2 separate regions of the Homo sapiens genome follow, and region 2 is linked to region 1. Evidence: fine-mapped expression QTL. A gene starts in region 1. The other region holds a variant in brackets. All regions are shown on one strand. Distances are from middle to middle.

Evidence for each region. PIP is the estimated chance that this variant, and not a neighbour inherited with it, causes the effect. A credible set is the group of variants that fine-mapping cannot tell apart.
Region 2: its variant is the best candidate, but not a certain one, in a credible set for the expression of LINC02915 in monocytes after Pam3CSK4 (Quach 2016, PIP 0.81).

Annotation. Positions count from the first base shown.
Region 1 is chr15:39,247,703-39,253,085 of GRCh38, reverse strand. It overlaps LINC02915 (long intergenic non-protein coding RNA 2915), which reads right to left and starts at 2,417. Exons shown (of 2, transcript NR_144508.1): 1 at 2,223-2,417; 2 at 1-1,027. All of the region lies in intron 1 of LOC105370777 (a long non-coding RNA gene), which reads left to right.
Region 2 is chr15:39,310,832-39,316,214 of GRCh38, reverse strand. All of the region lies in intron 1 of LOC105370777 (a long non-coding RNA gene), which reads left to right. Among named protein-coding and RNA genes, the nearest start is that of LINC02915, 63 kb to the right of the region's middle. The variant T/C (reference allele first, on the strand shown) is at 2,690.

The sequences.
Region 1 (5,383 bases):
GAACCTGCATTTCCTTTACATTTATAACCATTAGAGTGAGGCATGTTAAATAATTCAAATGAGAAATCCTAGTTTCCACCTTTATGTATCTCTCGGGTTTTCCTTTGTTCACCCAGTCTCCTGCAAAAATCATCAAATGTTCAAATTTATAGTTTGTGACTTGGTCACCCTGAACCTCTTGGTGACCCGGAATGAACATGAGATGCTGTTATTTAGCACTTGGAGCTCAGTTAGATATTAGTTTTCCTATAGTGAAATACTCTGATGCCAGTGAGGAAGGAAATCAGAAACAGGAATCAGACGATTCTGGCCAATCCTCCCAATACGAGGAGAGTGTCACTGACGGAAATGGGTCTGGATACTGGGTTTCTCTCTCCTAAATCCTTTGATGCCAGTTATTAAAATGGGTTACTTCTTACAGCCATGACATTGAACACTTCAATGAAATGATGCAAGATTTGGACTCCAAAATGTCCCCTCTCTCCCCTGTCAGCAGCATGAGCCTGAGCACGGCAAGAGTCAGCCAATATAGTGCACACACGCTTTGTTGAACTCATGTTCTTCCACCCAGGAGACTGAGGTTTCTGTGCAAAGAGTAATGTCAATCCGCTGGAAATCACTGGGTTGTCTGTTTCTTTGTTTATGACTTCTCCATATAGTTGGTTCTGCTCCAACTTATTTGAAAGGGACATCTGTTGGATGATTTGATGTGATGTCTGTTCCCTGAAAGTCATTTCTGACAGGGCGATGTAAAGGAACCTGAGAGGGAGCTCCGTCATGTGATGAGTGGCTCTTAAGTGCAGGAACAGATTTGAGAGGATTATCCAAGACAGTAACTTCAAGATCAAACTAGGCCATGGAGTTAGCCATAAGGCTCTGCAAATTCTTTGCGGCTCAGCCCTCTGGGGTCTCCTGCCACCGTGCTTGCCAGTAATGAATTTCACTTCCATGTGGGATCTTTCAGGTCTTCTTGACACACTGAAGCCATATGTGTTTCAGCCACTTCAGACATCATCCTGCTCTTTAACTTGAAGAACAGTCTAAGTCAGTGAGGTTTGCCATGGCATCAAATCTCCTTTTAAACCCACACCGCTTGAATAATAACTATGATTCTGGATAGTTGACTCATGAATATTTCCTGCGAAGGAACAATGAGGGTATTCTGAGGAAATTAAATCCATACAAGTAATTCCCAAACTTTATTCATGTTTGAATACTTTCTAACTTCAAATGTTTTTACCAGACTGGTAACACATAGCAAAATCAACTGATAAGATTGTCCTTTTTTCTTTCTTCCTCTTCCTCTACCTAACACTTCTCTAGTGTGGTACTAACTGGAGAAGGCACAAAGAGTAAGTAGATAGAAAGGGAAATGAAAAGTCAAAGAGCCCTACACTTTTTTTTCCCCCCTCTCTCCTGGTAGTCCTACTTCAAAGGCAGTGTAGCTTTCTCAGAAAGGCCAACCCACACTCAGAGGGTGAAGTTGGAAAACCCCAGCAACCCTATGATACACAATAAACCCATGTAAGGAGGTGGTCCCTTACAAACAGTTGGCTATGAATATCTTCTTTCAAATAGTCTGACACTCGTGGCATAATTATTTTTGTAAGAGTCCTCAGGAAAGTCTGTTTTGAAATACTGCATAGCTTAAGACTACAATAGTACCTTGCATAGTTCAATGTAAACATATCCAGGTGGCTTGTGAAGAAGAGAGGAAGCCAGAGGTGATGCTTCTCTATAGGAAAATGACACTGCAGCCAGCCCCCCGAATCCTGAGAAGACCCTAAATACACCACTCCCCCTCCCCGACAACTACCCAAGTGATATCCTGTGAGTGACTGGATTCTAATCTATCGAATAGTTTCTGTACATGAAAAAAAAATCAATTTTGGAATAAGAGTTGCCAGCAGAAAGATTTCCATTTATTAGGCACCTACCAGGTGCCTGATTCTATTGGGTACATTAAAGATATTCTTTCATTTAGTTCTCACCTGGAAACTCTCAAGGCTTGTTCACATTTTACTGATGAGAGAAATAAGGCACAAGAAGATTAAACAAACAATCCAGGCCAACTCAAGTGGAGGGATGTGTGGTTGAGTTCAGGTCTGCCTGTAAATCGCTTGAGGCCAGAAACTTTTCTCTATTTTGTTCACTGATGTGTCCCAAGTGCCCAGAAGAATGCCTGGCAAATTGTAGCTGCTTAGTAAATATTGAATGATTACCTTAATGAGAGAATCCAGCACGTGTACTCCTAAGTATTATTCTCTACAGTTTCTCCTCAGTCTCCTCACTCCAGTCTGTTACCTGCCCCTTTCTCCCATCCCATTTCAAAGGGAAATGGAGCCCAGAGCTGCAGTGGATGCTGTAGAAAGTTATATCTCTGTGTACATCCTGCTGAAGGAATGGAGCGATTGTCAGGGAGCTGTGTCATTGAGTCTGAGGCCTTACTTCCTTGCTCTCCCCCTTCTATTTCCTGCTTCCTCCCACAAAGATTTTCTGAGTCCTTGCTGTGTGCTGAGCACTGGAGACTCACTATGAACAAAGTTGGTATGGTCCCTGTCCTTATGCAAATTATTGAATAAATTATAGGTACGGTGAGTGTTTTGACAGAGAGGTAAGAATGTTATAGAAACATATAACAAGAGGACTCAGACCTATTCTTTGAGGTCAGGAAAGACATCTTTGCAAATTTTAACTTTAAGACAAGATATTAAGGATAATTAAGAGTTCCTAATGTATACCTTGGGTTTCCTGGATGTCTCTGCCTAAGACACTTTTAGGGAGGAGTTAAGACTGTTTTCCTATAATACTAAGAAGTCATTTGCCTTTTCATTCTTATTGCATTACAAGTGTACAATGGAGTTTTACAGAAGCTGCATAACATAGATTTCACAACAGATTGAATGCAGAAGCAGACATGAGAATCCATTTATCCTTTAGTAAGCCAGATATTGGTAAGATTTGCAAAAAATGCATAACAGCACTACTAGTCTCACTCATGTATTTTTGGTTTTGGAAAACGTGGCTATGTTTTCATAAAATGTTATTTATGTTAAGGTATAATCAGTTTACTATGTTGTTTTAAAATGAATTAAATATTTAAAAAAGAATTGGTTCTAATTTGCAACATGATATAATGATATAATCTACCTTTTTTAAAATGAAAAGGTCTTTGGGGTTCTTCAGAAGATTTGAGAGCACAAAGGGGCCGAGCCCCAAAAGTTTGCGAATGGCTGAGCTAAGAGAAGAGGAGGAGGGAGTGTTCCACAGTGAATAAACAGCCTGTGTAAAAGCCCTTCCCTGGTATACGACTTGTAGTTTTGAGGATATTAAAGAAGTCCAATGTGGTTGGAACATAGAAAGTGATGGAGAGAGAATATAATATGCAGAACAATGGGTAAGCAGTGCCATATTTGAGAGCAATGACTTAATCTTAGGTCAGTGGGAAGTCACTGAAGGGTTTTAAGCAGGTTGGAATTGATGAGATACATGTTGAGAGAGGAAGGAAAAGGAAAGAAGAAAGGAAAAGAATGGGGGGACACAGAGAAGGGAGGTCAGGAGGCTTTTGGGGAAAACTTAGTAAGCTATGAGGGAGGGACAGTAGGGCTGGATAGAAGAGGATAGATGTAAATAATATTATGGAGAATCTAGAGGACTTGGGTTTGATTGTCAGTAGAGAGTGACTTGTTTTGTAAAAGAAGGAATGAATTTTCTCATGGTTTTTTAGTCATACCACTTGATTTTAAATTCTAGCGCTAATTCTGTGACTGTGAGCAAATTATTTAAACTCCATAAGCTACAATTTTCTCATCTGTAAAAAAAACAGGAACAAGAGCCACAATTTCATATGGTTGTTGAAGTTATTTTAAAATGCACACATATCTAATATAACTGGATTATCGTAATTATTTATTTGTTTCCCTTACCTTCTCTTTAACTCTCTTTCTTACCATTTTAAGATGGAGGGGGGAAGTTGGCAGTGTTCTTCAGGAAACATAAATTCTTGGGAAGGGAGTTTGGACACCATATGCAAAATCTCCTCCTGTGATTCCTCTACACACTGGAGGTGTGCTTTCCTCAAGCACTTGAAGCAAATGTGTTCTCTAGTCTCTTCTCTCTCTCTCTTTTTTTCCCTGAAGACTACTCTGTCATTTAAGTTCAGTTATTTTTGTCTTACCTGCTCACTTTGGACTTGAAACTTTGTCCCGTTCTTCTTGTTCCATAGTCTGATTCCTACTATTTTTTTCCTTCACCTTTCTCTTCCCAAAGTCTTAGGCTAGCCTTCTCTATTTCTCAGCTTTGTCATGCCCTTGACTTTGCAAGATTCTCTTTCCTGGCAACCACCATCTACAGACAAAATATTAATAACTTTGGAGGAGTTAGGACAGAGGCATTAAAATTATTGTAAATAAAGCCAGATAGTCCTTTTGACTGGGTCCTGAACTACCTTCTGTTATTCCTACAAGTATCTTTTGAAAGGCTGTTCTCAAATGCGTTGACTTGAGAATTTAGAGAAATATTCTTTCGGGCTGAAGGGAAAAGAGACAGAGAACTACAAGGTCACAGGACCATGACAATATGTTGCCTTTTGCCAAGTGGCCCTTATTAAACAGCCTAGGAGGTGAGTGGAGGAGAGCATGGGTCTGGCAGTCTGCCCTGGGACAAGGAGCTTTGTCTGCACGCAGGTTCCCAGCTCACAGACGGTCCATATTTGAATAGAGCCCATTGTTTACCACTTGGGTGGAAAACAGAGGAAATAGGCAATGAGTCAGGCACCCACTTGTTTCAAAAGGAATTTTTAAAAGAGTTTCAGGGAAATCTAAGAGAAAAATAGAAGTTTGAAGGAAGATGAAGGAGACAAGGACAAACTGAGGGCTGCTGGATGCTAATGACATGCTTTTCTTTGCTGATAGCCTATCATTCTGGGTCTGTGGGTTCCAACCCTGAACCTGAATCCAACAGGAAAGGTACTTCTGGAGAAGAGCTTCCACTCTGGGGAGGCATTCTGACTAAGATCTAATCTGAAGTAGTTTGGAGTAAATTGATCTGCCTCTTTTCTCCATTTAAAGGACATTTGCTAAAAATGCCTTCTTCTTCAAAGGGCCCGCAGAACAGAGAGAGGGGATTACAGTGTGTATAATTTTTGAAATATGGTAACTGATCAGCAAATGGCATAAACTTAGATCTTATACAGGTCCTGTTTTCTGTGACATGATTTCCTGATCTGCAGATGCCCTGACTGACATTCCGCTTTCCTATGGCTCAATGCTTGGTGTAGAAATGGTCTTTCCATTTTGTCATCTCATTTGGGAAAAAATGCATGATAGTGGAATGAATGCCACAGAAAGGAAGGAAATGAGTTGGTGTCTATGGCAAAGACTCA
Region 2 (5,383 bases), 63 kb before region 1:
CATACGGGAGCTCTGATCTCAAAGAGAAGTTACCAAAGCTGCTTCCCTGGGTGAAATGGAAATTCCTGGAGGTCTAAGCTGCTGGTATGTATGAAGAGCTGTATGGCACATGGGCAAGAAGGAAGAATGGCTTCCCAGAGAAGGCAAGACTTACCAGTCATGCAGGAAATGGTGCTCAGAGAAATTTAAGCTTTGTATTTTGATTCAATTTTATTTTCCTTTAAAACAAGTGATTCTTATTTCAAACTATAGATTGCTTTGATAATTTGATGAAGATGAATAGGGTCATTTTAGAAAAATGCACTTCGAACCATCAACCATCATGTATTTTTGCAAATAATTTCAGTGGATAAGAAAATCCCCTAAAGACCATATGTTGGCCTCTTAAGTCTTGGTCCAGAAGTTTTATCAACCACAATAATAGTGGGACTCCATTCTCAAAAATTCTGATTCATCAGATATTAGAGAGTTAGTCCCAGGATTCCAAATTTTTAATAAGCACTCAAGAGAATTCTGGTTTAAGTGAGCTGGACCAAACACTGAGAAGCATTGTCATAGGGATCTCTGGCTCCTAGTTAAAAGGCATTGCCTCAGACTGCCTTAGAGCTCCAATGTTTCTGTATATATTTTCAAAATTAATTATTATCTTTCTCAATTTCACTCTATAAAGAAAACTCAAGTTCCCCATCAAATGAATTAGCCATTTTGGAGCAAAAATCAAAAGAAAGGAAAGAAGATTTTTGTTTTGACTGAGCCAGTTTGGCTGGCTTCCTATCCTGGCATCATCAGTTGAGTATTAAATTTCCAAGTCACTGGGTGACAGTATGCCTGGCTTCATCCCAGTATGGGCATTCATCAGCTGCATTGTACAGTAAGTACAGTAAGAACTGTCTTGTAAGAACGGGCTAGACTTAGTGAGACAATCCTGGTTTGTTCTGAAGAGCATAATCAAATGAGTGATTGCAAATGGAAATTGAGATCAGAGCCAGAAAAGGGGTCTTGAGCAGCAGATTTGTGATCAAGGCAATGCTGCCCAAAGAGGGCAAATTGAGCTCTCAGGAGGACTAACATTCAGGAAAACGTTAGGTAATGGGGCTTGAGTTGGATGAAGGCAAGCAGTTCAGGATGGAGGCTGTGATAAAGATGTTAGTCTTATCAAATACTGGCCAGTTTAAACACATTAGACTTGACTGGACAAAAAATGTTCTACATGGACATTCACTGATGAACCCTTATTACATAGAAGTCCAAGAAATAAAAGTTCATGGATGGTAAAATATGTCCATCTTATTTCTGATGATCATTTTTTGACAGTGAATTTACATAGAAATGATGAATAGCTCTATGTAGTTTTCATTGGTAATATTCTTTATTAGGGTATTATCTAGTTCAGTGGTTGGAAAACTTTACATAGACAGGGTAGAAAATTTTAGACTTTGTGACCTATCATACTGTCTCCATTATAAATTCATTTTTAATAATCCTTTAATAATGTAAAAATTCTTAGCTTTCAGGAAGTACAAAAACAAGGCAAGAACTGGATTTGGCCCTAAAGCTATGGTTTGCTGACCCTCTTATAGATTATCTCAACAGTAGAGTTATTTTCTATTTACATAGTATTTGGTGTTCTCTGATAGGAAATATAGGTCAGTGGAAGAACAGCTATATTTATTTAAGTTTCTCATGGAGGATATATCCCCTTCCTTATTTACTGAAAGGAGGGCTTAATACCATAAGCATGAGAAGTGGTGTTTTCTAAGCCTGAGTCCTCCTGTAGCCATCTAATATTAAAACCTGTAAGGAAAGAGTTGGATTTCAACTTGGTTTCTTTTGATCTATAAATTCAGGTATGATGGTGGTCTGGCCCTTTTGGGCTCTAAATTTAGCAATTAGCTTACTTTTGTTTATGTTTAACTACAATAAGCACCTTCTGGATTATCTGGATCTGGATTATCGGGATCATTATTTTATTGCCTGTGTACTAAAATGAGATTTAAGTCCAAGTAGACATTTGAACATAAGATTATTTGGGTTCCAGTAGGACTGCTTTAACTGTTTCCACATAATGAGACTAAAACAAACATAAACTTCATAATGGCCAAATGATGCCAACAGACAGTTTGGAAGGACTTTATCAGAGAAAACATTGATTGGATATTGAGTCATTGCATAACACATGGTCTATATAGTACAAAACTAGATAGATCTTGTAACATAGCTGTCAGCTCCTTATCCTCCCTGGAGCAGAAGAGGTTCAATTTTAGTCAAACAGTATGTTGGTCACATTTGATTAATGCTTTTAATTTGAATTTCAGTGATGGCACATTTAATTTGTAAATATGCATAAAGCTTGTTCAGTTATGAATATATGTGTGTGTATGCAGTTTAAGTTACCTCTAGGAGTGTTAGGAGATGGTCATAGTGGTCAACGTATAAATAAGGGCCAAGAACAAGGTGGTTGCAGTTAAGGTGGTTAAAGCAGGTCTGTGGTGATCCACAGGAGGCCATTCAGTGTCGTAGAGAGACGCCCCTTCCTAAGGCAGGTGCAGCCTGGAGCCAGGGCTCAAGGCCTTGCCAGCAGTGATTGGCTGGGTTTTAGCCTTGTTCACCCCCTCAGCTGAGCACTGTTGTTCAGGGGTATGTTCCTGTCCTAAGTAAGAGGGGGTGTGATTTAAGAGATAATATAGGG[T/C]AATAATCTTTGGGACTTAGTCAATTAAGTCTGGAGATGAAGAATTATTTCCTAACTTCCTCATTGACTGTTTTAAAACAATCCTCACTAAGCCACGTGGCTTTGGTGATGATTGTTTTAAAACAATATCTGATTTACTGAATCTTTCAGAAAAATTGAAATAACTGATATGAATTTTTCACAAGCTTTGATACAGTTAAGAAAAACAAAATGTAAGAAAAGAATATTGAAAGGGCTAAGCAACAGCAGCAATAGACTTGGGCAGGAGGTATGCGCACTACAAACTCGAGACCTGTGGACTTAGGCACTTCCTCTTTGCCATAGGTGTGCTTATTGGGGGTGTCATGGGCATGAGTCCACAGTGCCCTCTACTGCCTCCCAGTAGGTCTGTTCTAACATGCAACAGCTTGGTGGTCTCTTGTCCCCAGAATGAAGCAACTTTTTAAAAAAATTTATAATTATTTTATTTTATACTTTAAGTTCTGGGGTGCATGTGCAGAACATGCAGGTTTGTTACATAGGTATACACGAGCCATGGAGGTTTGCTGCACCCATCAACCCATCATCTACATTAGGTATTTCTCCTAATGCTGTCCCTCCGCTAGCCCCTCACCCTGGTGTGTGATGTTCCCCTCCCTGTGTCCATATGTTCTCATTGTTCAACTCCTACTTATGAGTGAGAACATGCAGTTTCTGGTTTTCTGTTCTGTTAGTTTGCTGAGGATGATGGTTCCAGCTTCATCCATGTCCCTGCAAAGGACATGAACTCATCCTTTTTTTATGGCTGCTTAGTATTCCATGATATATATGTGCCATATTTTCTTTATCCAGTCTATCATCGATGGGCATTTGGGTTGGTTCCAAGTCTTTGCTATTGTGAATAGTGCCGCAGTAAACATACATGTGCATGTGTCTTTATAGTAGAATGATTTGTAATCCTTTGGGTATATATCCAGTAATGGGATTGCTGAGTCAAATAGTATTTCTGGTTCTAGATCCTTGAAGAATCGCCACACTGTCTTCCACAATGGTTAAACTAATTTACACTCCCACCAACAGTGTAAAAGCATTCCTATTTCTCCATATCCTCTTGGCTAAAATCAAGTGTAGTATCTGTTCTTATCAGTTTAATGGAGCAACTTTTAAAGGGAGTTTCCTTCTAGGTGGACCCGTCACTATGGTGCAGAGAAGCAGGGAATGACTGGGTGGAACTGCAGGGCTGCTTCAGTGGGCAGGGAGAGTGCATCAGGGGAACCATGCAGAATGCTGGGCTACTCATCTGCCTCTCCATTTCACAGGAGAAACAGAGAGCTGTTGGTTTGATTGACTTAAATGGATTTTTATTTATTTAATTTATAGTAAGTGCCGCGTATTGCTAGGCCTTGCAAAGTCAAGGGTATCAGGAATATAAGAGGACTGAAAGCAATATTCCTCGTGCTTCCAGAGCAGATGCCTAACCGGGGAGGCAGAGCTCAAGTGTGGTACACTGAGAACGCCTAGGATGCAAACACAGGTGGATTTGTTTATTACTAAAGCGGCACAGGGAAACTTCTCAGAGTGAGAACATATTTTGTCAGTAGGAGGAGCGCCACATAAGATGAAATCAGACTGCACACATGCATGAGGGTTTTCTGTTTAACTTGGGGGTGAAGATGAACTTTCAAAGGGGCCTTAGAGGCAGGTATATTACATCCATATTTTTGAGTATGAAGAAGAAGGGGCAAGCAATACTTAGTGGAAACAAGACAAAATTCAGAGATAAGAGTGCAAGTGGAGTTCAAACATAGTAAGAAGAGAGGTTAATGGTATCTATCTCCCAGCAGGCAGAACACCACCACACTCCTGGGAAATGTTTCCCCAGGCACCGGAGTATGGAGGTGTGCTCTCCCCATTAGTAGGGGGTTCTTAGTATTGAGCCAGGCTTTTGCTTGCTTGAGGCCTGATTACTGTAATACTTGGTCTAATTCTTTTCGACTTGGGCCACAGGCTTAGGCATTGCTGAGCAGCTGCTGTGTGTTTTTGTCCTCTAGCAATGGTGAGCACTTTAGCCTTGATATACTGGAGCCTAAAAACATATGGCAACAGCTCTCAATCAATGTCCTGGAGCTCTCAATCAAGTTGATGTTTTGTTTGGTTGTGTTAAAAATGGATTTGGCCGGCACTATGGTTCACACCTGTAATCCCAGCACTTTGGGAGGCCGAGGTGGGTGGGTCATGAGGTCAGGAGATCGAGCCCAGCCTGGCCAACATGGTAAAACCCCGTCTCTACTCAAAATACAAAAATTAGCTGGGTGTGGTGGCGGGCGCCTGTAATCCCAGCTACTTGGGAGGTTGAGGCAGGAGAATCATTTGAACCTGGGAGGTGGAGGTGGTTGTAGTGAGCCGAGATTGTGACATTGCACTCCGGCCTGGGCAACAGGGCGAGACTCCATCTCAAAACAAAATAAATAAAAAAGGATTTAAGGATAGTTTTCATGGCATCCTTTCCCCATAATTGCAGATATTAAATGCAGCCTAAGAACAAGTGTTAAAACATCCTCAGAGACAGTTTAGTAGTGAAACACCCAAGTCTTTCTGACATTAATAGGCTTTAGTGGGATTAGCTTAGTAATAGTTACATAATGTGTGATTCGTGGCAATGAAAATGCTAAAAGGGCCAATTATTGCATCATAATGGACACACCTTTAACATAA